Linked DNA regions of Homo sapiens. The protein of the gene in region 5 purifies or fractionates together with the protein of the main gene of each other region. This does not show direct contact. Each region holds a gene or a part of one and is shown on either strand. Other genes may lie near its edges.

Region 1 (3,500 bases), on a different chromosome or scaffold from region 5:
AAAACTCCTGAGCTCAGGTGATCCACCAGCCTCAGGCTCCCAAAGTGCTGGGATTACAGGTGTGAGCCATCGCATCTGGCTATAAGCACTTTATTATAAGAGCATTTTATAAAAGAACAAAGATACCTGACATTAATTCTTCCCTTAGGGAATTATTGAGATAATATGTAAAAATCATAGCCCATAAGTAGTCATCAACTTCTTAGCCTTTTCTATGTACTTGATAAACTCACTCAGCCATTAAAAATAATTCCTTTGGTGGTGGAGGTGGTACTAAGTAAGGCGGAAGTGTGTAATTCTGAATTAGTCATGTTAGTTACCGCCCGATAAATATTAGCGGATGATTTACACAGTGAAGACAGTTTAAATACAGCAAGTTCAGCATCACTACGTTGTTTCAACATACATCATTTACATTATAATCCTGCAGTGTGTTTTAGTAATTTTCACTTTTCAATGGTTTCTGCTAATTATACTACAAGAGAAAAAAATTTAAACCCTTGACAAACAGGAAATAATATTTGTGAATATATTTGTGTTCCCATCTCAGTATTTTTAATACTGAGATAAATATACTGAGATTTTTAATATTTTTAATTTTTAATACTGAGATAAAATATACTAGTATTTTCTCGTTTGAGGTAATAATTTAAATGACATCCTGTCTTTTGCAGAGTGAAATGGTAAAGGAGCTGGATGGTCATGTGCTCAAATGTGTGAAAGATCAGAATGGAAACCATGTTGTACAAAAATGTATCGAATGTGTTCAGCCACAGTCACTACAGTTCATCATTGATGCTTTCAAGGGACAAGTATGTTTGAGTTTTGGCTTATAATTTGTTAGCAGGGCATTATTTTAGAATTTTGAATATCAACACGTTTTTCATGAGTCACTAGATAATACCCAGCAATTGTATACAAAAATAGGATACAAAACAGTAAATGTACATTAATTTCTTCCTCTTTCATAGTCAGTAGATAGCTTCATTTTTCTGAAGCTGCAAAACAAATAGTTTAATCACATTACTTTAAGAAGTAAAGGTAATCACTGTTAGAATTGTTTTTTATTTATACCCAACGATGTTTTCAGGTTTACTCAGAGAAGGGAAGGAGGTTTGGAGAAAGACATAAGACTGTATAATAAGACAGAAAACACATAGCAATTTGTAACTAATACATAGTAATTAATATTTCTTAATGCTGAACTACCCTTTCTCTTTTCACCCATTCATTCCCATTGTTACATAACCTCAGGTTCAGGTAAAGTTCTGGTTAGGTTCCTTTTGATCAAAATATCTTCAGCTCCTAAATGGAGTGCTCCCTGTCCCCACTCTCCAGTCTTTTCTAACATGGTGGTAGTCATATTAAATGTGAGTTCATCACCCTTCTATTTCAAACTGCTTTTAGGTGTTGTCAAAAAAAAAAAAAACAAACCAGTCTGCTTCATAGAACTGTTCAAAAATGTCAGAGAATACAAATTTTAATTCTTCTAATTGTCCTCAGGTATTTGTGCTTTCAACTCATCCTTATGGCTGCAGAGTAATTCAGCGCATCCTAGAGCATTGCACTGCAGAACAGACCTTACCTATCTTAGAAGAACTCCACCAACATACAGAGCAGTTGGTACAGGTATAAATTCCCTAATAATTTGAAATGTTTATATATTTTTGGAAATTGTTTTAATTTTTAAAAGAAATACAATTTGTTACTAAACACACTATAGACAAGAGTGAGACAAAAGGCTGTTGTATTCTCCTAACTATCCTACTGGATTTTTAGATGAAATGATTAACATGTCTTTAAAGAATATCATTCTTAAGGAATGACTTAGGGAAAGTAATTTTTAAATATCTGTCTTAGGATCAGTATGGCAATTATGTTATTCAGCATGTACTGGAACACGGTCGACCTGAAGACAAGAGCAAAATTGTTTCCGAAATCAGGGGAAAGGTTTTAGCCCTGAGTCAACACAAATTTGCCAGGTATTGTAATACTTTGTAATTTTAAGGGTCAATTCTTTCAACTCATTGACTTTTATTAGTTATCACAGAAATACGTGTAGCATGTAGCATTAAACTGTAGTCTTTTTTTTTTGGTATCATTAAAATGCACCTATAGAACATTGCTTTTGTTTTTTAAAAAAATCTACATAACAAATTTGTTTTGCCCACATATGTTCATTTATGAAATCTGTATTTGGAAAATAATTACTCCCGACACTGGAAATGCAGATTTATTTAGTACATGTTTCTTGAAAACCTCACAGCTTTAATGATCTGGTTTCCTTTTTTTTGAAGTACAATTTTAAGAGACCTGTAATTAAACTTGTGGATGTCAAAATGATGTAGGTTGTTCCAAGATACCAATTTCTGTTATAAAAGTAATTGGCTGGGTACAGTGTCTCACACGTGTAATCCCAGCCAGCACTTTGGGAGATCAAGGCAGGAGGATCAGTCGAGCCCAGGAATTCGAGATCAGCCTGGACAACATAGAGGGAGATCCTTTCTCTACAAAAAATTATCCAGGCGTGGTGGCGCATGCCTGTAGTCTCAGCTATGGGGGAGGCTGAGGTGGGAGAATCACTTCAGCAAGGGAGGTCAAGGCTGCAGTGAGCGGTGATAGCATCACTGCACTCCAGCCCGGGTGACAGAACAAGACCCTGTCTCAAAAAAAAAAAGAACAAAATAAAATAAAAGTAATCATAAGACAAGAGAATCCCATCCTGACTTCTGTTTTATTGTTCATTGGAGAAGATTCTTTCTATAAGTCAAGGAAATTTTGCTGTGAAGAAAAAAATAACAAATCTTTGTTTATCTGCTTTAATTTTTAGCAATGTAGTAGAAAAGTGTGTTACTCATGCCTCCCGTGCTGAGAGAGCTTTACTGATTGACGAGGTTTGCTGCCAGAATGATGGTCCTCACAGTGCCTTATACACCATGATGAAGGACCAGTATGCCAATTACGTGGTTCAAAAGATGATTGATATGGCTGAACCTGCTCAGAGAAAGATAATCATGCACAAGGTAATACAGCATGTAACACTCAGATAACTGTTTGTCTTTGTGTTTAGGCTACACATTTAACCTCCTTGGGCTTTCATTTCCTCCCGTATGTTATAACTGGAGGAAAAATTAAAATCGATGGATATCCTTTGGCAGATATATTGGTATGGTTTCCATTTTTATGCTTAAGGTTATCATGGCCAGGCATGGGGGCTTTTGCCCATAATTCCAGCAGATTGGGAGGCTGAGGTGACAAGATCACTTGAGCCCAGGAGTTTGAGACCAGCCTGAGCAATGTGGCAAGACCCTCCCTCTACAAAAAAAAAAAAAGAAAAACAATTAGACAAGCATCATGGTGCAACCCTTTAGTCCCAGCTACTTGGGAGGCTGTGGTGGGAGACCACTTGAGCCCAGGAGTTCAAGACCAGTCTGGACAACATAGACCCCCATCTCTACAAAAAATTTAAAAATTAGCTGGGTATGACGATACATGCCTGT
Region 2 (2,755 bases), on a different chromosome or scaffold from region 5:
ATGGCTCTCAGGAACCTCTGGCAGCCTTGTTGGAGGAAGTCATAACAGATGCCAAACTCTCCAACAAAGAGAAAAAGAAGAAACTGAAGCAGGTAAAAGGATATTCTTTATAAGCCATTTTTTCTCCTCCCTACTGTTTTTATGTTTTTTTTTTTATTTTAATAGGCTTCATGTAAATCTCATCTTCTGAGCCATAGCAGTTTTCTAAGTATATTAGTTCATACATTCTAGAAGTCTCACTGATTTACACACTTGTGGTCAGTATCCTAGATCTTTATTCTTCAGTGTAAATCTGTTACCATTGCCAAACTCTTCATTTTTGGAGCTATTCTCTAATATTTGTCCTTTGTTTTGGTATGTGGCATGATGTGAATTAGCAGAGCATCTGCTTTAATCTCAGAGAAGCTATCAGTGAGGGTGGATTTCTTTTCATGTTTTCAAAAGGCAAATCAGATGGAATTCACAGGTGTAAAATGTTTAGAGTTTAAAAGCCGTTGGTTTTAGATAGCCACTATCAAATTAGTTTCTTGCCTCAGGTATCAGTACAAGTTTTTAGTTCCTCTTATGTTAGGGAACACAGCTTAGGGTTCCAGCGAATCGTTTTTAACTCACAATATGTTACTTTTGACTATTCATAAAGGTTGATCCATGATCAGGTGAGTGGTTTTTGTTTTTAAAGACTGAACTCTACATAGTTGGATTCAGGGAACACCGTACATGTGGGATTACACACAGAGCACCAGAGTTCTGGGCTTCTGATCATATTATTCTCAGAGTAATTTTGGAGGAGAGTTTAGTGGTAAAGATCAACAGAAAGTATACTGCCTCTCTTTTAAGCTTTTCACAAAGTAATATACACCAGAATATTCCCTCTTCCATTTGAGCAGAAGCTGGTGGGGCTGAGTTGGAGAAACAGAGAAATGATGAAATGTAATTGGGCCAAAATTTTATTTAACTGTGTAGAACAGAAGTTATTTTGAAGTCAGAGTTACTTGTGAATATATAAAAAGTGAGGTCTATTTATAGTTGGCAGTGGGGGGAATTTTCAGAAACATGATTAAAAGGGGAACTTATTTGAAGCTTAGATCAAAGGAAAGATGGATTAGCTCTATAGAAATTGGAATGAAATGTTTTAACAAAAATAAACAAAAACAGGAAAATACAGGCTCAGAAACTCTTAAAATTTGGCTGCCAAATTTTATTGGCTTTTATGTGTCTTTTTTTACTCTTCTTGGACCATTCATTTTTTTAGTTTCAGAAATCCTATCCTGAAGTCTATCAAGAACGATTTCCTACACCAGAAAGTGCAGCACTTCTGTTTCCTGAAAAACCCAAACCGAAACCACAGCTGCTAATGTGGGCACTAAAGAAGCCTTTCCAACCATTTCAAAGAACTAGAAGTTTTCGAATGTAATAATACTTCCACAGCAACAGGTGCTAGAGACCACTGTTGTTGTTTTGAGTGAATGGTGGTTAGGAGAAAGACTTTGGTGGTGGAAGAAAGAAAAGCATAAAACAAAGACTACTGAAATATAGATAAAGATTGCCTTAGTTTTTAAAAATGTTTGGCCATTAGTATTTTTATAAAACTCAATGCTAGTTTTAAAGTGTATAAATTGGTTAAAATTTATGAGTCAAATATATAGTGATAATGTTAACATGTTTGTAATTGCTACAGAATTTAAGGGTATTTTTATCTCTGTGCTTTCTTTTTCATGGTGTTTATTAAATAATTGTGTATATACATCCTAGCTACTGATATCTTTATTATAGCCTTAAGACTTAATTTTAAGTCTTAAAAATAGCGTGTATACTTGAATAAGAAAGACACTGGGTACTGTTACTGTGATGCTATTGACTTAGTAGCCAATTATCATTTCTCCTGTATAAATTCCAGTTTTTATTGCTGCACATAAATTTTTTAATGTCTTATATTGTGATAGCTATGTCTTTTATTGCAGATTTATTGGATGTTATGACAGATTTTACTAAAGCTAGTGTTTTTATAACATATATATTAGTTGATGTTTACCTATAAGTGGAGTAGATTTTCATCTGCCTGCAATGGTATAATTTCAGTCTTAGCTAAAAATGGAAAGTTGAACTGGATAAATTCTTTGGGTACCCTTAGACCTCTGATTCTAAGTCAAATGCAAATGGGTTAAATAAAATGAGACTACTTCCTTTATAAATATATTTTCATCCTTTTGAAAGTAAGTGAAATGTAAATAAACTTATTTTTTTTAAAAATGCCATACCTCGTGTTTCTTTTTTGGCATTTATTTAGATCAGTTAGAGAGCATCCTCAAATGCCTTTGCCAATGGTCTTCATCAGTCATTTATTTCTATGAGAAAATGAAAAGTAAGATTTGGGCTTTTGTACTGACTGGTCTTTAGGTGAGCACTTTGCCAATTTTTTAGCATTGCTTTGTCCTTTTGTAAAATTGTGGTGCACTTGGATTATGGAGCATCTGAAAGTCTTCCTCTGAGCGCAATTACCCAGAAAGCTGAGAGCAACACCCACTAATTGGCTTACAGTACTCCTTGGACTGATTTTTCCTTGCACTTAAGATTTGCTCCTGTTCTCTTGTAGCAAAATACCTCCTACATCTGATGCAGATTTTGCTTTTAAAAATGGACCAAAGTATTCCTATTGGTTTGGGTACCACCTTACATTCCAAATACATAATGTAATGGGAGATTTTTAGTGTTTCAGGATTCATTCTCAGACTTTGGCATTCTGTTTAGAGCCAAG
Region 3 (3,500 bases), on a different chromosome or scaffold from region 5:
TGCCATTACAATTCTTAAATTCTTTTTTGCTATATTTACTGACTTCTTTGGCATGTAAAATCATATTTCATATTTAATCTTCAATCATATTTACATTTCTCAGAGTTAAGAACTGTGTCTACTGCTTCTCTGTATTTTCTCACAATGCCCAGTACAAGTTCTAAAGAATATCTGCTGATTAACTTCAACTTGAATGTAAGTATCTATATAATAGGATATTATCCTTGTTAATGCTTCTGTGTAATGAATATTAAGGTTAAGAGTATCACAAATAATTTTATAGCTAGAAAGAAGTTAGTAAATTAATCAGATTTTTTAAAGAGACAGAGTCTTGTTATGTTGCCCAGGCTGGCCTTGAACTCTTAGGCTCAAGATCTTCCTGCTTCAGCCTCCTGAGTAGCTGGGACTACAGGCATGCACCACCATGCCCAGGAATCTGTAAATTTATTGATGATTAACATGAATGAAATGGACAGAGAAGACAGGACCTTAAAAAAATCTTTTAGTTCACATTTCTATTTTGAGAAGTCTGATTCTCGCATGATTTATGAGAAAGTGATATGCTAAATCAGTTTGCCACAGCCATAGTATCTAACCAAAATGATTTGATGTGGGATTCTACACTATTTAAAGTTTAAATATCCCAATTGTGTACAGATTCAAATCATCTTTGATTAAACCCAAATCCTTCAGTTACTTTCCAAAGTAAAATATACATAAAGAGAATTACAGGCTGTGAGTGGTGGCTCATGCCTATAATCCTAACACTTCGGGAGGCTGAGGTGGGAGGTTCACTTGAGCTCAAGAGTTCAAGATCAGCCTGGCAACACAGTGAGACCTCGTCACTTTTTTTTTTAAAATCAAAAAAAAAAAAAAAGAGAATTATAGGCTGGGTGTGGTTGTGACTCATGCCTGTAATCTCAACACTATGGGAAGCCAAAGCAGGAGGATCACTTGAGTACAAGAGTTTGAGGACAGCCTGGGCAACATGGCAAGACCCCATCTCTACCAAAAAAAAAAAAAAAAAAAAAAGTAGCTAGGCATCAGGATGTGTACCTGTAGCCTCTGCTACTTGGGGGGCTGGGGTGAGAGGATTGCTTGAGCCTAGGAGTTTGAGGCTGTAGTGAGCCATGATTATGCATGCCACTGCACTCCAGCTTGGGAGACAGACTGAGAGATCCTTCCCCCATTCCCCCACACAAAAGAGACAATTACAATTCACAAAGAAAAATGACCTCATCTGCTCAATGGAAGATGTTAACTAACTTTATTTTTTTTGACTACCTGTCACTAGCATTTCCATCTGCTCAGAATTTGACTCATCCAATAACTTCAACTATTGATAACCCTGGTGAGTTCAGAAATGAGGCAGACAGCCTTTTGGCAACAAAAGTAAATAGCATAAATACCATGTTAAACTCAACGACTGTAGTCTTTAGGAGACTCAACTTTATTCTGAGCCCACTGTTTAAAAGAACCAATTCTACATATTCATCATAGCTACAGAAAAAAATAATAAAAGCTGTAAAAGAAAGAATTCTAGACCGGGTGTGGTGGCTCATGCCTATAATCCTAGCACTTTGGGAGGCCAAGGCAGTTGGATTGCTTGAACTCAGGAGTTCGAGATCAGCCTGGCCAACATGGCAAAACCCCGTCTCTATCAAAAATACAAAAATTAGCCAGGTGTGGTGGTGCATGCCTGTGGTCCCAGCTACTAGGGAGGCTGAGGTGGGGAGGTTGGGAGGACTGCTGGAGCCTGGGAGGCGGAGGTTGCAGTGAGCTGAGATCGCGCCACTGCATTCCAGCCCGGGTGACAGAGTAAGAGCCCATCGCCAAAAAAAAAAAAAAAATCTGCAGTTGTTTACCTAATTTCTAAATCCATGCAGATTAAGGGGCAGAAAGGGACTTTACAGCTAGACACACTGACAACTGTGAGTTTTAAACAGTGGGCTTTCTTTTAAACAGTGGGCTTTCAACTGACTGCTGTTAAGGCAAAGATAGGAAAACTATGAAAAACAAAAACCTTAAAATATAACAGTATGGGCTACCTAGTGATGAGGCAAATGGTATCACCCAGTTGAACATTCTCTCCCTCATTCTGGTACAGCCAGTAAAATAACCTTCGCAGTGGTGATTCTCAGACAATAATAAAAATTCAATTGTGAGGCAGGGCATGGTGGCTCATGCCTGTAATCCCAGCACTCTGGGAGGCCGAAGAGAATGGATTACTTGAGGTCAGGAGTTCGAGACCAGCCTGGCCAACATGGTGAAACCCCATCTCTACCAAAAATTCAAAAATTAGCTGGGCATGGTGGCGTGCACCTGTAATCCCAGCTACTCGGGAGGCTGAGGCAAGAGAACTGCTTGAACACAGGGGTGGAGGTTGCAGTGAGTCAAGATTACGCCACTGCACTGCAGCCTGGGCAACAGAGAGAGACCATGTCTCAAACAAGAACAAAACCAAGGCCAGGTGTGATGGCTCACACCTGTAATCCCAGAAATTTGGGAGGCTGAGGCGGGTAGATCACCTGAGGTCAGGAGTTTGAGACCAGCCTGACCATTATGGTGAAACCCCGTCTCTACTAAAAATATAAAAATTAATTGGGCATGGTGGTGTGCACCTGTAGCCCCAGCTACTTGGGCGGCTAAGACAGGAGAATCGTTTGAACCTGGGAGGTAGAGGCTGCTGTGAGCTGAGATCTCGCCACTGCACTCCAGCCTGGGTGACAGAGCAAGATTCTATCTCAAAAACAAAAACAAAAACAATTATATTCAAAATATAGTTAGCCTTCCGTATCTGCAGTTTCCACATCTGCAGATTCAACCAATCACACACAGATAAAAAATACTGGGGGGAAAAAGCCATAAAAAATCAAGCAAATTTTAGGCAAGGCGCAGTGGCTCATGCCTGTAATCCCAGCACTTTGGGAGGCTGAGGTCAGAAGACTGCTGGAGACCAGGAGTTTGAGACCAGCCTGGGTAATACAGTGATACTCTTGTGTCTACAAAAAATAATAAACAAAATAAGCCAAGCACAATTGTGCATTCCTACAGTTCCAGCTATTCAGGAGGCTGAGGTGGGAGGATCACTTGAGCCCAGGAGTTTGAGACTGCAGTGAGCTATGTAACTGTGCCACTGTACTGCAGCCTGGGTGACAGAGGGAGATCCTGTCTATAAAAAAAAAATAAAATAAAATTTATGGTTGGGCGTGGTGGCTCAAGCCTGTAATCCCAGCACTTGGGGAGGCTGAGGTGAGATCATGCCACTGCACTATAGCCTGGGTGACAGAGCAAGACTCTGTCTCCAAAAAAAAATAAAATAAAATAATGAATAAAATTTAGGCTGGGCGCGGTGGCTCGAGGCTGTAATCCCAGCACTGTGGGAGGCTGAGGCAGGCGGATCACCTGAGATCAGGAGTTCGAGACCAGCCTGGTCAACATGATGAAACCACGTCTCTACTAAAAATACAAAAATTAGCCCGGTGTGGTGGTACACGTCT
Region 4 (3,500 bases), on a different chromosome or scaffold from region 5:
GTTACATGTTTCCAAATTTTTTTTTAAAAAGTATTTCCTTTCTTATGATCCTTCCCCAGAACTAACATGCTGACTTAGGAACAGATGAAGTAGATAAAGTCTATCCTAGTATAGAGAGCAATGATTTAGTTTTACCTAATTAAATATTTCCTTGTCATTTATCAATTGTCACTGACCTTTTTGATGTAATTATTTCCTCATTCACTCATCTATAAATATTTATTAGTACCTATTATTACCCATGTCTCCCTGATTTTCCAGAAAAAGAATTCATGTTTTTTTTTCTTCTCATTGCTAAGCTCACTTAGAAAAGTTGGGCACCATTTAAAAGAGTTGGAGAACAGACCAGGGTGGCTTCTTGGGCACAGCTGGATGGTGCTGGAAGCCAGGCCTGGGATTTGGAGAGAAGAGTTTCCGACATATAAACCCACGGAGGTCACCAGCCCTCCCCGCATCTACTCTCCTAACAGCTCAGGACAGCCCCGTCACACTACTGCCAGCCCTGGTGACTCACTTTGTTGGCAATTTTTAAAGCCCTCTTCATTATGTACTTCCTACTCTTCAGAACCTCTGTGATAAGCAATACCCCTGCCATACAGAACGCTGGATCTCGGTTTACTCAGCCTCTCCCTGTAGCGTCACAGGCTGTGCACTCACCTAGGTGAGCCCCTAAGAGCAGGGTTTGCTTCTGCTTCACCTAACGCCACGTCTTCCCTCAAATGTGTGGTCACCAAATGTTTGCAAAAAGGGTCTCTAGCTTTTTTTCTTTTTGGCACATTAAGCCCTTTAAAATACTTCTGACCTATCTTTATACTCAGATCTCACCTCGTCTCAAAAAGTTTTATGGGGTAATGCGCCAATGAAAGGTACAGTAGTATTAGTGAGTTCTGAAGCTTCTAATTACAAAGACCACAGAGGCTGGCTGGTGAGCCATGCTTCTCATGCTCCCTTCTGTCACACTGCAGATGTCTCTTTTACCTCGGCCTCATCATCGGTTAGTTATCTGTCAGCAAAATGTAGAAAGGTGATGGGCGTGGATGGAGTCAAAATCCAGGACAATTCTGTCATAAAGGTACAGTAACACTCTTCTCCTTTGCTTGTTTTTCTCAAAGAATGCTTTCTCTTTCTTCTCCAAAGCCTGTGCTCTCAGAAGAGGCTGCTGCATGGAGCTCCGGAGGATCTTTGGAGAGCCTTGTGTAACTTGAACGTTGGCTTCGCTTATGTGTCATGCTTTTTAGATTCTCATTCTGAATAGTGGTTGGGTTGGGACTGGAACTAGGCCTCAAAATGACTTGAGAAGTCTCCCTAATTCCCTCCATCTCATCGAAATTTTGATTGGCTCTGTTGGCTGGAGCACTATTGTTGTTCAGAGTCACGGTGCTGGGAGTTCGGTTCAGGTTGTAGGCTTTCTGGCATGCAGGCCAGTTTTCTTCAGGGCTGCTGGCTATCAAGCTGCATTCGGAAGGGCTTTTCTTGTCTTCTGAACAAATGGACATCCGAGCTATAATTGGATCTTGCAGGCCACTCAGGCTATGTGGGATTCCCCGCTTTCCGCTGTGACTGTCATCTTCCAGCTCTATGAGATTTGCCTTTTCAAGCTGGGAGTCATCCGCCACTTCATTGTGCAGAGAGTGATTGGGAGAACTTTCACTGGATCTCACTCCTGAATCCGATGAATCCTTTTTGTCAAGGAGCGCATCCGATAAATACTCTTTGGCTTTAATGAAGGTTCTGATCGGCTCAGCACTGTGTTCTGGAGACTTCGGCACTCTCTCTACTTTCCCTTCGGCTTTTCTGTCTTTGTCATCTTTGAGCAGTGGAGTGTTATCTGATTCTTCTGTGCCAGATTCATCCTCGTCACTTGGGAGTTTTTGATAGCGCAGCCCACTTCCCTTAAGCTTCAAATCTGTCTGGAAGAGGCTTGACCTTTCGGAAGATTTCTTGCCTGGGAGAAGCTTACTGCCTGACTGATCTGATTTTTCATCTTCTTCAGTGATAGGATCCAGGGGGGAAGCATCGTTGGTGGAAACCCCTGATGATGAATAATCGATAACATCTCCCCTCTTCATTAGAAAGGACTTCCTCCCATCATCGGGCTTTGGTTCACTATCCTTCCCCTTTTCTTGCTCTAGGTTTGAATGAATAGAGCCCCCTGATGAACTCTGACCCATGTAATATGTGCTATGTGGAGAAGATCTGCCACTAATGGTTGTAGACCCGGGGCCCCCTTCTAACTGGGACATCTGAGCAATGTATTCTCTATAGGCATCTCTATACTCGGCCTGCACCTTATCAGTAAGCTTTGAAATTTCAATACTGGAATCCTGGGAATTGAGACTCGAAAGACTTGGGGTTCTGCGAGTTTGTGACTGTGAAGACAGAAAAAAAATAATTTAAAAATTCAAATAAGAAGAAAAAAGGCATAAACATCAGCTTAGGAAATATATATGTACACTAACCATTTAAAAAGTCATCAAAACATCAAATTCTTTTAAAAGAATTCTACATAACACAGATTAACAAAAGCTGTGACCTTATAATGCTGTTACTAGAAAGCTTTCTATAAATTTTAATAAAATCAGTTTATTGTTAATATTTAAAAGTATGATTAAACACTGTATTAACAAATAATCTTAGCACTTGTTTCTGGTTTTTATTTCATTTTTAAGAGACAGGATCTTGCTGTGTTGCCCAGGCTAGATTCAAACTACTGGACTCAAGCAATCCTCCCGCCTCAGCCTCCTGAGCAGCTGGGACTATGGGCATGTCCCACATGCTCGGCCACAGCACTTGTTTTTATAACTTCAAACGTTTAGCTTTTATTTAAGGCCAAAGTCAACTTCATTGATAAAATATAAAATGCAATGAGGCCAATAGTTGGGCCTTAGTAAACAGAAAAATAAAGTAGTTTTACAAGTTTATTTCCAATATTAAGTTTTAGAATTAGAATTTGCTTCAGATCCCAGAATAGCTAAGAAACAAGGAGCAAAAAGTACAGATGAGGAAAAAGAAGGAGAAGAATCAAGAAAGTTTAAGAAGGGTCAAGAGCAAAGGCTAAAACAAAAAAGAAGGAGCAAAGTGAATTTGTTGGGGACCTTCTCAAGGAAATAGGACATTTTCTTCCTTCCCCAAGGCGCTGCTCCTCCTCACCGCTGCCCTGCCCTGCCCACTCAGTGTTACTCGCTGCCGCCCGCTGTGCCTCCTCCCCCGTTGTTCTCCACACCCTGCTCTGCTTTTCCTCCTGCGCTCTCCTCACTCCCGCTACTCCTCCTGCATCTCTCACTTTGCTCTGTCCCTGCCCCTACCCCTACCCCTCACCTGGCCTCCTTCTTCTAAGAATCTCCAAAGGAAGAACGCGCCTACATCTAATGCCAGACCAGAAGAAACCAATATCCGTGAAGGGTGTGCAGGCGTCCTGGAAAACCAAAGGATGGTGCTCAAAGGGACACTATGTGGCCAGTGTTCCAATGAAGATGTACTTCAACCAACAGTTACTGAAT
Region 5 (3,500 bases):
CACGGAAGACATTAAAGATCTAAATCAAATTTTTAGTGATAAAAATTATAATATGTGAGATGAAAAATATACGGGATGGTTGTAAGAGCAGATTATACACTGCAGAAAAACAGACTAATGAATTTAAAAAAAACCAAAACAATAGAAATGAAGCACAGAGAAAAAACTGAAAAAAAAGAGAGAGAGAGAACATCAGTAAACTGTGGACAATATCAAGCTGCTAAATCATGTAATCAGAGTACTCAAAAGGAAGAAGGGATTGTGAGGCAAAAAATATTTGAAAAAACCAAAAATTTTCCAAATTTTATGAAACTATAAACCCACAGACCCAAGAAGCCCAAAGGACCCCAAACACAAGAAACATGACATAGATTATAATAGCGCACTGCTGAAAACCAGTGATAAAGAGAAAATTTCCTAAAAGCAAGGAGAGAGAAAAAAGAAATATTATGTACAAATGAATAATAATAAGGATTACAGATGATTTCATGTTGGAAGCAATGCAAACTAGAAGACAATAGAGTAACATCTTTAAAGTACTGGGGGTAGAAGAAGCCCTGTCAACCGAGAACTCTATACCCAGCAAAAATATCTTAAAAATGAAGAAGAAATAAAAATATTTTCAGTCATACACAAGCTGAGAGAACACATCACAGATTTTCACTACAGAAAGTTCTTCAAGCAGAAGAAAAAGGACATCAGAAGGAAACTTGAATCTACACAAAAGAATGATGAACACCAGAAGCGGGAAGTATATAGTAGTTATAAAATCTTTACTTTTAATTTTAAATATTTACAAAGATAATCAATTAAATCAAAAATTATAACAATGTGCTGGGTGGCTTATAATATAGGCATAGGTAAAATGGATGACAATAGCACAAAGGACCGAAGGCAAGAAATGGAAGTCTATTGTTGGAAGGCTCTTAGACTATATGAAGTGGTAGACTGTGGTCAGTTAAAAAATTTACACTACATATTCTAAAGCAACCACTAAAATTTCACGATATAGAGTTATAGCTAATAAACTAGCCAAGGAGATATAAAGAAATAGAAAATAATCCAAAAGAAGGCAGCAAAAAAGGAAAAAAGGGAAAAAATGTAACAAATGAGACAAAAAGAAAAATAGTTTTCTTTGTTGTGTTACTGGTTAAACACAGACATATCAATCATACATTAAATATAAATAGTCTAAACCAGCATTTGGCAAACTTTTTCCGTAAAGGGCCAGATAGTAAATATGTTAAGCTTTTTAGGTTAGCTTCTTTCTGATTTTTTCAACCCTTTAAAAATGTAAAAACTATTCTTACCTCACAGGCCATACAGAAACAAGCCACATGCTGGATTCAGCCTATAGACTGTTGTTTGTGGATCTCTGGCCTAAACATCACAACTAAAAAACAGAGACTGCTAAATTAGATAAAAAGCAAGATCCAAGTATATTCTCCCTACAGGAAACTCACTTTTAATGTTAAGACTCAAAATGTTAAAACTAAACAGATGGAAAAAAACTATCATATTAATGCTTATCAAAAGAAATCCAGAGTGGCTATATTATTAGACAGAATAGATACAGATCAAAAAAATTACTAGAAGTAAATATAGTAGTTTCATAATGATAAACTGTTTCCTTCATAAATAGGACATAAAAATCCTAATGTTTTTTTACCTAATAACAGTGTTTCAAAATACATAAAACAAGATTGATGAAAATGCAAAGAGAAATAGACAAATCCACAAATATAGTCAGAGATTCCAATATCCGTTTCTCAATAATAGAGCAAGTAGACAGAAAATAAGTTATGATATAGAATACCTAAACAACACTATTAACTAACTTGATCTAACTATTATAAACTAATCCACCCATAATAGCAGAATATACATTGTTTTCAAGAGCACAAGAAATATTTACTGTGATAGACTATATTCTGGACAATGAAATAAGTTTCAATAAATTTCAAAAGATTCAATTCATAAAAACTATATTCCCTGCCCACACTGAGGTTATATTAGAATAACAGAAAGCTTCTGGAAAAATCCCTAATTATTTGGAAACTAAATAACACATTTGTGGCCAGGTGTGGTGGTGGCTCATGCCTATAATCCCAGCACTTTAGGCGACGGTGGTAGGAGGATCACTTGAGGCCAGGAGATGGAGGCTGCAATGAACTATGCTCACGCTACTGTACTCTAGTCTGGTGACAGAGCAAGACCCCATCTCCATTATATATATATAAAATCTTTGTGTCCTGGGGTTAGGCGAAAAATTTCTTAGCTATAGTACCCAAAAGCACAATTTGTAAAAGGAAAAAAAATGGATTTTATCAAAATTAAGTAAGAACTGCTCCTCTTTAATAGAAAATATTAACAGACTAAAAAGACTTGGCAAAAATATTTGAAAGCCAAATTTCTGATAAAGGACTTGTATTCTTCATATATAAATAACTCTGAGGACTCAATGAGAAAACAAACAACCCTATACAAAAATGGGCAAGAACATTTGAAAAGACATTTCATTTAAAAAGATGCATGAATGGCAAAAAAGTACATGAAAAGATATTCAGGATTATTAGTCATTAGGGAAATGCAAATTAAAGCCACGATGAGACCGCTAAATATTAATACCTATTAAAATGAAAATACTGACCATACCAAATGTTGGTGAGGATGTTTAACAACTGGAACTTTCATACACTGTTGGCAGGAATGTGACATGATAAAGCCAACTTTGAAAATGAGTTTGGCAGCTTTTTAAGTAGTAAAACATACATGTTATGTAACTCAACGATTCTACTCCTAGGTGTTTATCCAGGAGAAATAAAAAACAAAATATATGTCCAAGGACTTGCATGCTATTGTTGATAGCAGCTTTATTTATAATTGCCAAAAAACCCAAAACTTGGCAACAATCCAAAAGTTCATCAACAGGTGTATGGGGATAAAGAAACTATAATGCCTAATTGATCTGCAATAAAAATGAACTTTTGAACATGAAACATTATAGATGAACCTCAAAATAATTTTATTGTGTGAAAGCAGTCAGACAAAATGGAATACATACTGTATGATTTCATTTATATAAAATTCTAACAAATACAAACTAGTCTACAGTGACAGAAGGCACGTCAGTGGTTTCCTGGGAATGGCATGGGGTCCACAGGACCTGGGAGGCAGGGAAAACAGCTCAGTGCATATGATCACTACCTTGTTTGTGGTGATGGTTTCAAGGTGCGCACACATATAACACTTATCAAACTGTATCCTTTCAACATGAACTGTTTATTTTACACCAATTATATCCCAACAAAGCTGTTTCAAAAAGTCAAAAGAATAAGATAGTCAAAGCATGTCAAAGAATAGCACATCTGTTATAATCTCATTGAGATTAGAAAAGAAAAACCGAGGCCAGGCTCGGTGGCTCATGCCTGTAATCCCAGCACTTTGGGAGGCCGAGGCAGGTAGATAACCTGAGGTCAGGAGTTGAAGACCAGCTTGAC
Region 6 (3,192 bases), on a different chromosome or scaffold from region 5:
AGCCATAATCTTATTGCTAGCTGCTTTTAGCAAAAGTCTTTTCTTGAAACCACCACCTATACTCTTTAAACAAATAAAAACTAAAATCTCTTGCTAATGTTTCAGGAAGATTTATTTTTTCTATTTTGCTATTGTGGCGAAAATTATTTTCAGTTATAGGATACTTTTTTCCTTCTGAAAAGTAATAAGCTTAAAGTTTTTGTTTCTGTAAGATGTAATGATAGTAACTATTATTTTGGGCATATTAACCAACAGAACAATTATGTAGTATGTATATCACTTTCTCATTAGATCTCTAACTTGACCTTCTAGTACCTTTATGTGTGAGGATAAATTTGTTAGATCCTTTTATTCTCAATCTTGGATAATGATGCAAAATGGAATTTTGTTTTGTTTGTTGGTAGATTCACATACTAAAACTTTGCAGGTAAAGTTGCTTGCCTCATGTTAGAATTTAATTAGAAAACTGAGGCTGCCTTTTTTTTTTTTTTTTTTTTTTTTTAAGACAGAGTCTTGTTCTGTCGCCCAGGCCAGTTTTTTTTTTCTTGTACAGATGGGGTTTTACCATGTTGCTCAGGCTGGTCTCAAACTCCTGGAGTCAAGGGATCTATTTGCCTCAGCCTCTCAAAGTGCTGGGATTACAGGTGTGAGCCACGGCTCCTGGCTCCTTGCTCCAGAATCAGTTTTTTAATGGAAGATAGCTCATACTTTGTTTTTGTTTTTAAAGAGACAGGGTCTCACTCTGTTGCCCAGGCTGGTAGTAGCGTGATCATAGCTCACTGCAGTCTCAAACTCCTGGACTCAAATAGTGCTCTGGAGTACCTAGAACTACAAGTGCCTACCACCACACCCAGCTAATTTATTTGTTTTTTTTTTTTTAGAGATGGGGGGGGTCTCCCTATGTTGCCCAGGCTGGTCTCAAACTCTTCACCTCAAGCAAAACTCCCACTGCAGAAAGCTTTGGGATTACAGGCATGAGCCACCATGCCAAGCCCATACTTATTGTTAATAAAGTTTCAGTGACTTGCTTACTAATCTTATGCAAAATTTCATGTAATTTATGTAATACTACATAACAATGCTACATATGGTATGTATACATACACTGTATACACACAAAGGTCTGTTCTGGGTATTTTATGTATCTTATCTCTAGGCTTTATGGCTCTGAAATGGAGGGAACTGGACATAAATGTTTCAAGGAATAAAGTGAATGTTTTGTTTGTTTGTTTGTTTTGAGACGGAGTCTCAGTCACCAGGCTGGAGTGCAGTGCTGTGATCTCAGCTCACTGCAACCTCTGCCTCCTGGGTTCAAGCGATTCTCCTGCCTCAGCCTCCCGAGTAGCTGGCATTACAGGTGCCTGCCACCATGTCCAGCTAATTTTTGTGTTTTTAGTAGAGATGGGGTTTCACCATGATGGTCAGGCTGGTCTCGAACTCCTGACCTCATGATCCGCCAGCCTCAGCCTCCCATAGTGCTGGGATTATAGGCATGAGCCATGCTCCCGGCCAAAGTGAATGTTTTGGGTGAAGTTTATATAAGGATTTGACTTTTGTATCATTATTAAAGTTTCTGTCAGGTAATACAGTGTTGGCCCTCTGTTGAAATAAAATGTTACATATCGCTGGGTGTAGTGGCTCATGCCTTTAATCCCAGTACTTTGGGAGGCCAAGGCAGGAGGATTGCTTGAGCTCAGAAGTTTGAGACCAGCCTGGGCAACATAGCAAAACCTTGTCACTATAAAAAATACAAAAATTAGCCAGGCGTGGTGGTGCACGCCTGTAGTCTCAGCTACTCAGTCGGCTGAGGTGGGAAGATGGCTTCAAGCCGGGAGATGGAGGCTTCAGTGACCTGTGACCTGTGATCACACCACTTAATTCCTCAAAACATTTATGTCCCAGTTCCCTCCATTTCAGAGCCATGGGCAACAGAGCGAGACCCTGTCTCAAAAAAAAAATTACATATAAGCCCGGTTTAAAGAGAGGATAATATGCAACCACCCTAGTTGAAACAGAGTGTATCACTTCTTTCTCACCCTAAATTTAATGCCTAGTTTGAAAATCAGTAGACAATAATAAAGTTGATAAGCTTTAGGTTGGTAGGAAAGCTATGTAATCTATATAGTGTACTAAATCCTTATATGTTTTTGGTAAAAAAAGACTTTAATAGCTAATTTGGACTTCAGAAAATGGGTTAATTTCACGAGTGCATATCACTTTTGACTATATTAGTCAAGCATATTATTAAAGTTTAAAAAACTCTAAAACTTCTGTACTGTTTTTTTCTTAAGTGCTCTCTTCCTTATTTCTACATTACTACATTCACATTTCTGCTGTCAATAAGCCCTAATGGAGTGATAAACTTTAAGCTAGTAGATACTGCACCATGTCTTGTGGTGGTGTTTTCTTAATGAAATGGAAGCTGTACTTCCTGTTTGTTTTTAAATACTTTTGAAACAGACAGTTCATGTACCCCATCATTTAGAGATGCAGTTTGAATTTCCATGGAAAAAGGTGCCAATTTTGGATTGGGAAAGGAGCTGAAGCCCCAGTCAAGACTTTGCCATTTGGGGTAATGCAGCAGATTCCTGTGTCTGTATCTTTCCAGTGTGTGTGTTAATCCATAGTGTTCTGAGCACCAGAAGGGTCATGTAAATCTGAAGTTGTTATTAAAGGTTTTTCTATAGTGAAAGATGTCTTTTCTGATTCATTCTTGTATGTTACTTTCCTGAATTGCTATTCCCTCTGCCCCCTGCAAGTCCTTGTCTGATCACTGGTACCAATACTTTGTTTAGTATGAGTTGTATTAGCATTAACTTAAAAATTTTTAGGCCGGGCGCAGTAGCTCACGCCTGTAATCCCAGCACTTTGGGAGGTTGAGGTGGGTGGATCACAAGGTCAGGAGTTCGAGACCAGCCTGGCCAATATGGTGAAACCTCGTCTTTACTAAAAATACAAAAAAATTAGCCAGGCATGGTGGCACATATCTGTAATCCCAGCTACTTGGGAGGCTGAGGCAGGAGAATTGCTTGAATCCGGGAGGCAGAGGTTGCATTGAGCCGAGATCGCGCCACTGCACTCCAGCCTGGGTAACAGAGCGAGATTCCATCTCAAAAAAAAATTTTTTTTTAACTTAAAAATATACAAAAAAGGCAAAATACTGCACATGTAAATGTGATAAATATATTTGGA
Region 7 (3,962 bases), on a different chromosome or scaffold from region 5:
GCAGGCATGTTTATTACAGCGCTATGAGGGATTCATCCACTCCACATTCCCCATTGCCCTAGCCCCCTTTCGCCAACCCCCGTCCCTGCCAAATCAGGCCAATTTCTTTCTTTCCAGTTATTTGCTGAAAGTTCAACTTCTCTTAGAGCCTTCTAATTATGCGTATATCATATAGGCTGATAATTTTTAGTTTAGGCTGAGAAATGCAGCCTAAATCAGTCTGCCACATCAGATTGTGAACGTCTGGATGGTGTGGACCCCCTTCTCCTACTGCTTAAAAGACAATCTTGTTGTAAAACGCTATGGAATCGTTCCTCTCCCCTTAACATCTTTGTGCCCCAGAAGCCCCATCTGTAAATGGGGATAATTTTCCTATATCTTCCCATGGTTACGTAATTTTTAGATCTAACACGTGAGGACCAAACGCTTTACAAGCATAATCTCATTAAATTCTCAATAAGAATATATTATTATGGAGGTTGCATGTGAAAATACTTTGTAATGTAGAAAGAGCCGTCTGGCTGTGAGTTATTATCAGGGGGTTATCTTCCTTACCTGGCTGTTGTGAGGATGAAACGAGACGCCGACCTGAAAGCGTTTTACGTGCTATCAAGCATTTTACAGAAACCACGTGATAGGCTACTAATTACCCACCGTATACCACCTGACCCACCGTGAGGCCTCGGTAAATACTGGTTGGAGTGGACGAGTTTAAGTCTTGCCTGTTCCTTTCAGTCTTCCAATCACAAAGTAATCTCGGCGCCGCCAGGGGCCAAGACACAAATCTGGGAACCTCAGCCTAGATGGAGGAGGGTGCGGGGTCCCGGGAGAGGGGATGAGAACAATAGGGTACTTCAGTGCCCGGGCCCTGTTTAGCGGGTCTTCGGACTCAGGGCCCGAGGGGCGGCCAGCTGGGGTGTCCGGAGAGCTCCCCTCCCCAGGTCTGGGGTGTGCACGGAGAGGCGTCCAGAGCCTGCTCAGCATTCCTCGGGAGAGAGCCAGACCCTGGTCCCCCGGGCCCGTGCGCCCCAGCGCCCCAGCTCCCTTGCTCACGCCACCCCGGCAGCGTCCAAGCCCCGCCCGCCAGCTCAGGTAGGCCGTCCGCGCCAGCCAATTCGCAACAAGTCCGGGCGGGGAAGGCGGTGCTTCCCTGTCCGGAAGTGACGTGCTGCGCTTGGCTGGCTGTGGAGTCGGCCGAAGCTTTCGGCGGCGGCTGAGCCAGCTGAGGGGAAAAATGGCTCGGACTGTGGCGGCTTCGGCGGCTCAGGTTGTGGTAGAGGCGGAGGCTCAGGCAGCTTGAGGTGAGGAGCGGTCGGTGCGGCTGGGGACGATATTCGGGGTCCTGCTCTGCAAGGGTGGAGAGGGGCCCCGGGGTTCCCGGGCTGGAAGGGTCTCTTGTCGCGGCCCCCAGTGCCTTGGGTGCCCGCGTCTGACCCTCCATCCCGTGCTCTTGGCGTTGCCCAGCCCGACTCCCCCCTCCCTCCGGGCCTTGCTTCCACCCAGGCCGTGAGCAAGTGCTGCGCTGGAGGTGCGAGGAGCCCGCGTCCCCACCAGGCCCCTCTTCTCGGGAGCGGAGGTGCGCCAGGGAGTTAGTTTTGTCCCACAGAAGGAGGGCAGGCCCCCCGGCCGCCGGCCCCCCTCCCCCGCCTTGTCCCGCGGGACCGGGCTGGAGCCGCAGTGGCCGGTCCTATTTTCTTGGCAGATTGTTAGTTCTGGCGAGTGTGTGTGTTGTACTTCTCAGTGACGGCCCCTTCTTTCACCTCCTGTCCCATCTCTGGCTCTGGGGGCCAAGGATACTTTTTCTTCTTCCCGGACCCCCCACTCCCACCGCGTTGCCTTTAGCCGCGAATCCACTTGCTTTGGGAACACTATTCTTTCAGTGTGTATTTAGCGCATCATCCTTCTGAGAGAGCGGTCAGATTAAAAAATACTAGCTTAACTCTTCCTGAGTGACGGAGGAATCATAAATAATTGAAGAAAAAGGCACATACTTATTTTCCTCACTGAATTTCTGGCTTTAAAAACGACATTCTCTAGCTGTGGAATTATTTTTTGGGGGAGGAGGGATTGAGGAGGGAAATGAGGAAGGAGAAACTAAGGAAAAAAGTCTGGACATAACGTGGAAGAGAGAGCCTGTTGTAGTTCTTTTCCTATACTGGCCCGATAGAAATTGAGGTTATAATTATATTCTTATTTTGAACAGTGGGGGTTTGAATTAAGTGAAACGAAGGAGGCCTGCCTCTTTGAACAAGATTAGTTATTAAAGAATGTCCTGAAATCTTTCCTGGTGGGTTTCAGGCAGAAAAGCTCTGTTGGGAAAATTTTTAAATCTATTGTAGCATCAAAGGCCACAGCATATAAGAGATGCAAGAAGAAGAAAGCTGTTTGTAGGGGAACGGTGAAGACATAGTAGAAAGAGGGAAGGCTGCACAGAAGTCCAGGAACTAATTCCAGGAGAGACTTTGTACCTTTGCCTCCTTGGCTTGTGGTTCAAGTCTCCACAAGAGACTCCTTTAGCAGCTCTGCCATAGTTGGGGTTGGTGCTCTTTTTTTTTTTTTTAATTGACATGGGGTCTCACTGTGTCGCCCAGGCTGGTCTACCATGCCCAGCAGAATGGTGCTTTTTTTTTTTTTAAATTTGATCTAACCTTATCTGGACAGGATGGTGCTCTTATTCACAGCAGCAAATTAGACGAAAGGACCCTAGTTGAAGTATACAGATTTTATTTTTATATAAGATATTTGTTTAGTATCAAGACAGTGGTTACATACTGAAAAACAATGTAACTGGGAATAGAGAGATTTTATTTGTTAACTCAGATTTAGTTCAAAAGTGATTTTACGTAGGTAGAAAGCACATATGGAGTTTCTTCCATAAATTCCGTAATTTTGGCTGAATTAATACATTCTAAAGTAGGTTTTTTCTTATCAAAGTGTCTTGCTATTTGTGTTTTATATGCGTGTTTCCTGCAGTTTTCTTTGCAAATAACATGTTTTAATGTTTTCATCACAGGTTTTACAATTTTTTTCTGTTTGAATCTCGCTCTGTCGCCTAGGCTGGAGTGCAGTGGCACGAGAGCTCACTGCAACCTCCACCTCCAGGGTTCAAGTGATTCTCCTGCCTCAGCCTCCTGAGTAGCTGGAATTACAGGCACGCGCCACCACACATGGCTCATTTTTGTGTTTTTTCAATAGAGACTGGTTTACACTATGTTGACCAGGCTAGTCTCGAACTCCTGACCTCAAGTGATCTGCCCGTCTTGGCCTCCCAAAGTGCTGGGATTAAAGACTTGAGCCACTGCACCTGGCAGTTTTTTCTGTTTTATAGAATACAAAAGCTGGCATGTTTGCATTGAGGAATTTTAGAAACTAACTTTTTGTAATGAATAACTGTATACTAAGTTTGTTTCTTCTGCAATTAATAGTTCTAAAATTTTCAATTAATTGAAGATTGCTTGCATTAATTCCCATGTCCAGGACTCTTTCTGTAGCACAAAGTTTTGCATTTAAGTAAGCACATTCAATAAGTGAACTTATACCTAAAGAGTGTTGAATTTCCTGAGAACTCAGAGTTCTTATAGAGCATCAGAGCAGCAGTAGTGCAAAGCATTTTTTGTAACTTGTTTTTCTTTGATAACATGAATTATTCTTTTTTTTTTTTTTTTTTTTTTTTTTGAGATGGAGTCTCACTCTGTTGACGAGGCTGGAGTGCAGTGGCACGATCTTGGCTCACTGCAACCTCCACCTGCCGGGTTCAAGTGACTCTCCTGCCTCAGCCTCCCGAGGAGCTGGGACTACAGGCGTGTGCCGCTATGCCCAGCTAATTTTTGTATTTTTAGTAGAGACGGGGTTTCACCATGTTGGTTGGCCAGGATGGTCTTGAGCTCTTGGCCTTGTGATCTGCCCACCTCGGCCTCCCAAAGTGCTGGGATTACAGGCTTGAGCTACCCTGCCCGGCTCTT

What was found.
Region 1: the proteins of BACE2 (region 5) and PUM2 purify together in Homo sapiens (affinity purification with mass spectrometry; one large-scale study listed by BioGRID and IntAct). This does not show direct contact.
Region 2: the proteins of BACE2 (region 5) and DEPDC1B purify together in Homo sapiens (affinity purification with mass spectrometry; one large-scale study listed by BioGRID and IntAct). This does not show direct contact.
Region 3: the proteins of BACE2 (region 5) and PAPOLG purify together in Homo sapiens (affinity purification with mass spectrometry; one large-scale study listed by BioGRID and IntAct). This does not show direct contact.
Region 4: the proteins of BACE2 (region 5) and KIDINS220 purify together in Homo sapiens (affinity purification with mass spectrometry; one large-scale study listed by BioGRID and IntAct). This does not show direct contact.
Region 6: the proteins of BACE2 (region 5) and SOAT1 purify together in Homo sapiens (affinity purification with mass spectrometry; one large-scale study listed by BioGRID and IntAct). This does not show direct contact.
Region 7: the proteins of BACE2 (region 5) and PIK3C2A purify together in Homo sapiens (affinity purification with mass spectrometry; one large-scale study listed by BioGRID and IntAct). This does not show direct contact.

The regions. Positions count from the first base shown.
Region 1 is NC_000002.12:20,253,345-20,256,844, reverse strand, and holds part of PUM2 (pumilio homolog 2), read left to right. Parts: intron 1-674; coding exon 675-812; intron 813-1,503; coding exon 1,504-1,629; intron 1,630-1,860; coding exon 1,861-1,982; intron 1,983-2,830; coding exon 2,831-3,023; intron 3,024-3,500. UniProt on the Homo sapiens protein: Sequence-specific RNA-binding protein that acts as a post-transcriptional repressor by binding the 3'-UTR of mRNA targets.
Region 2 is NC_000005.10:60,596,412-60,599,166, reverse strand, and holds the end of DEPDC1B (DEP domain-containing protein 1B), read left to right. Parts: coding exon 1-92; intron 93-1,252; coding exon 1,253-1,414; 3' UTR 1,415-2,255; downstream 2,256-2,755.
Region 3 is NC_000002.12:60,762,768-60,766,267, reverse strand, and holds part of PAPOLG (poly(A) polymerase gamma), read right to left. Parts: intron 1-3,500. UniProt on the Homo sapiens protein: Responsible for the post-transcriptional adenylation of the 3'-terminal of mRNA precursors and several small RNAs including signal recognition particle (SRP) RNA, nuclear 7SK RNA, U2 small nuclear RNA, and ribosomal 5S RNA.
Region 4 is NC_000002.12:8,729,614-8,733,113, forward strand, and holds part of KIDINS220 (kinase D-interacting substrate of 220 kDa), read right to left. Parts: intron 2,370-3,500; coding exon 1,107-2,369; 3' UTR 1-1,106. UniProt on the Homo sapiens protein: Promotes a prolonged MAP-kinase signaling by neurotrophins through activation of a Rap1-dependent mechanism. Provides a docking site for the CRKL-C3G complex, resulting in Rap1-dependent sustained ERK activation.
Region 5 is NC_000021.9:41,269,160-41,272,659, reverse strand, and holds part of BACE2 (beta-secretase 2 isoform A preproprotein), read right to left. Parts: intron 1-3,500. UniProt on the Homo sapiens protein: Responsible for the proteolytic processing of the amyloid precursor protein (APP).
Region 6 is NC_000001.11:179,355,989-179,359,180, forward strand, and holds the end of SOAT1 (sterol O-acyltransferase 1), read left to right. Parts: 3' UTR 1-2,692; downstream 2,693-3,192.
Region 7 is NC_000011.10:17,205,187-17,209,148, reverse strand, and holds the start of PIK3C2A (phosphatidylinositol 4-phosphate 3-kinase C2 domain-containing subunit alpha), read left to right. Parts: upstream 1-1,162; 5' UTR 1,163-1,301; intron 1,302-3,962.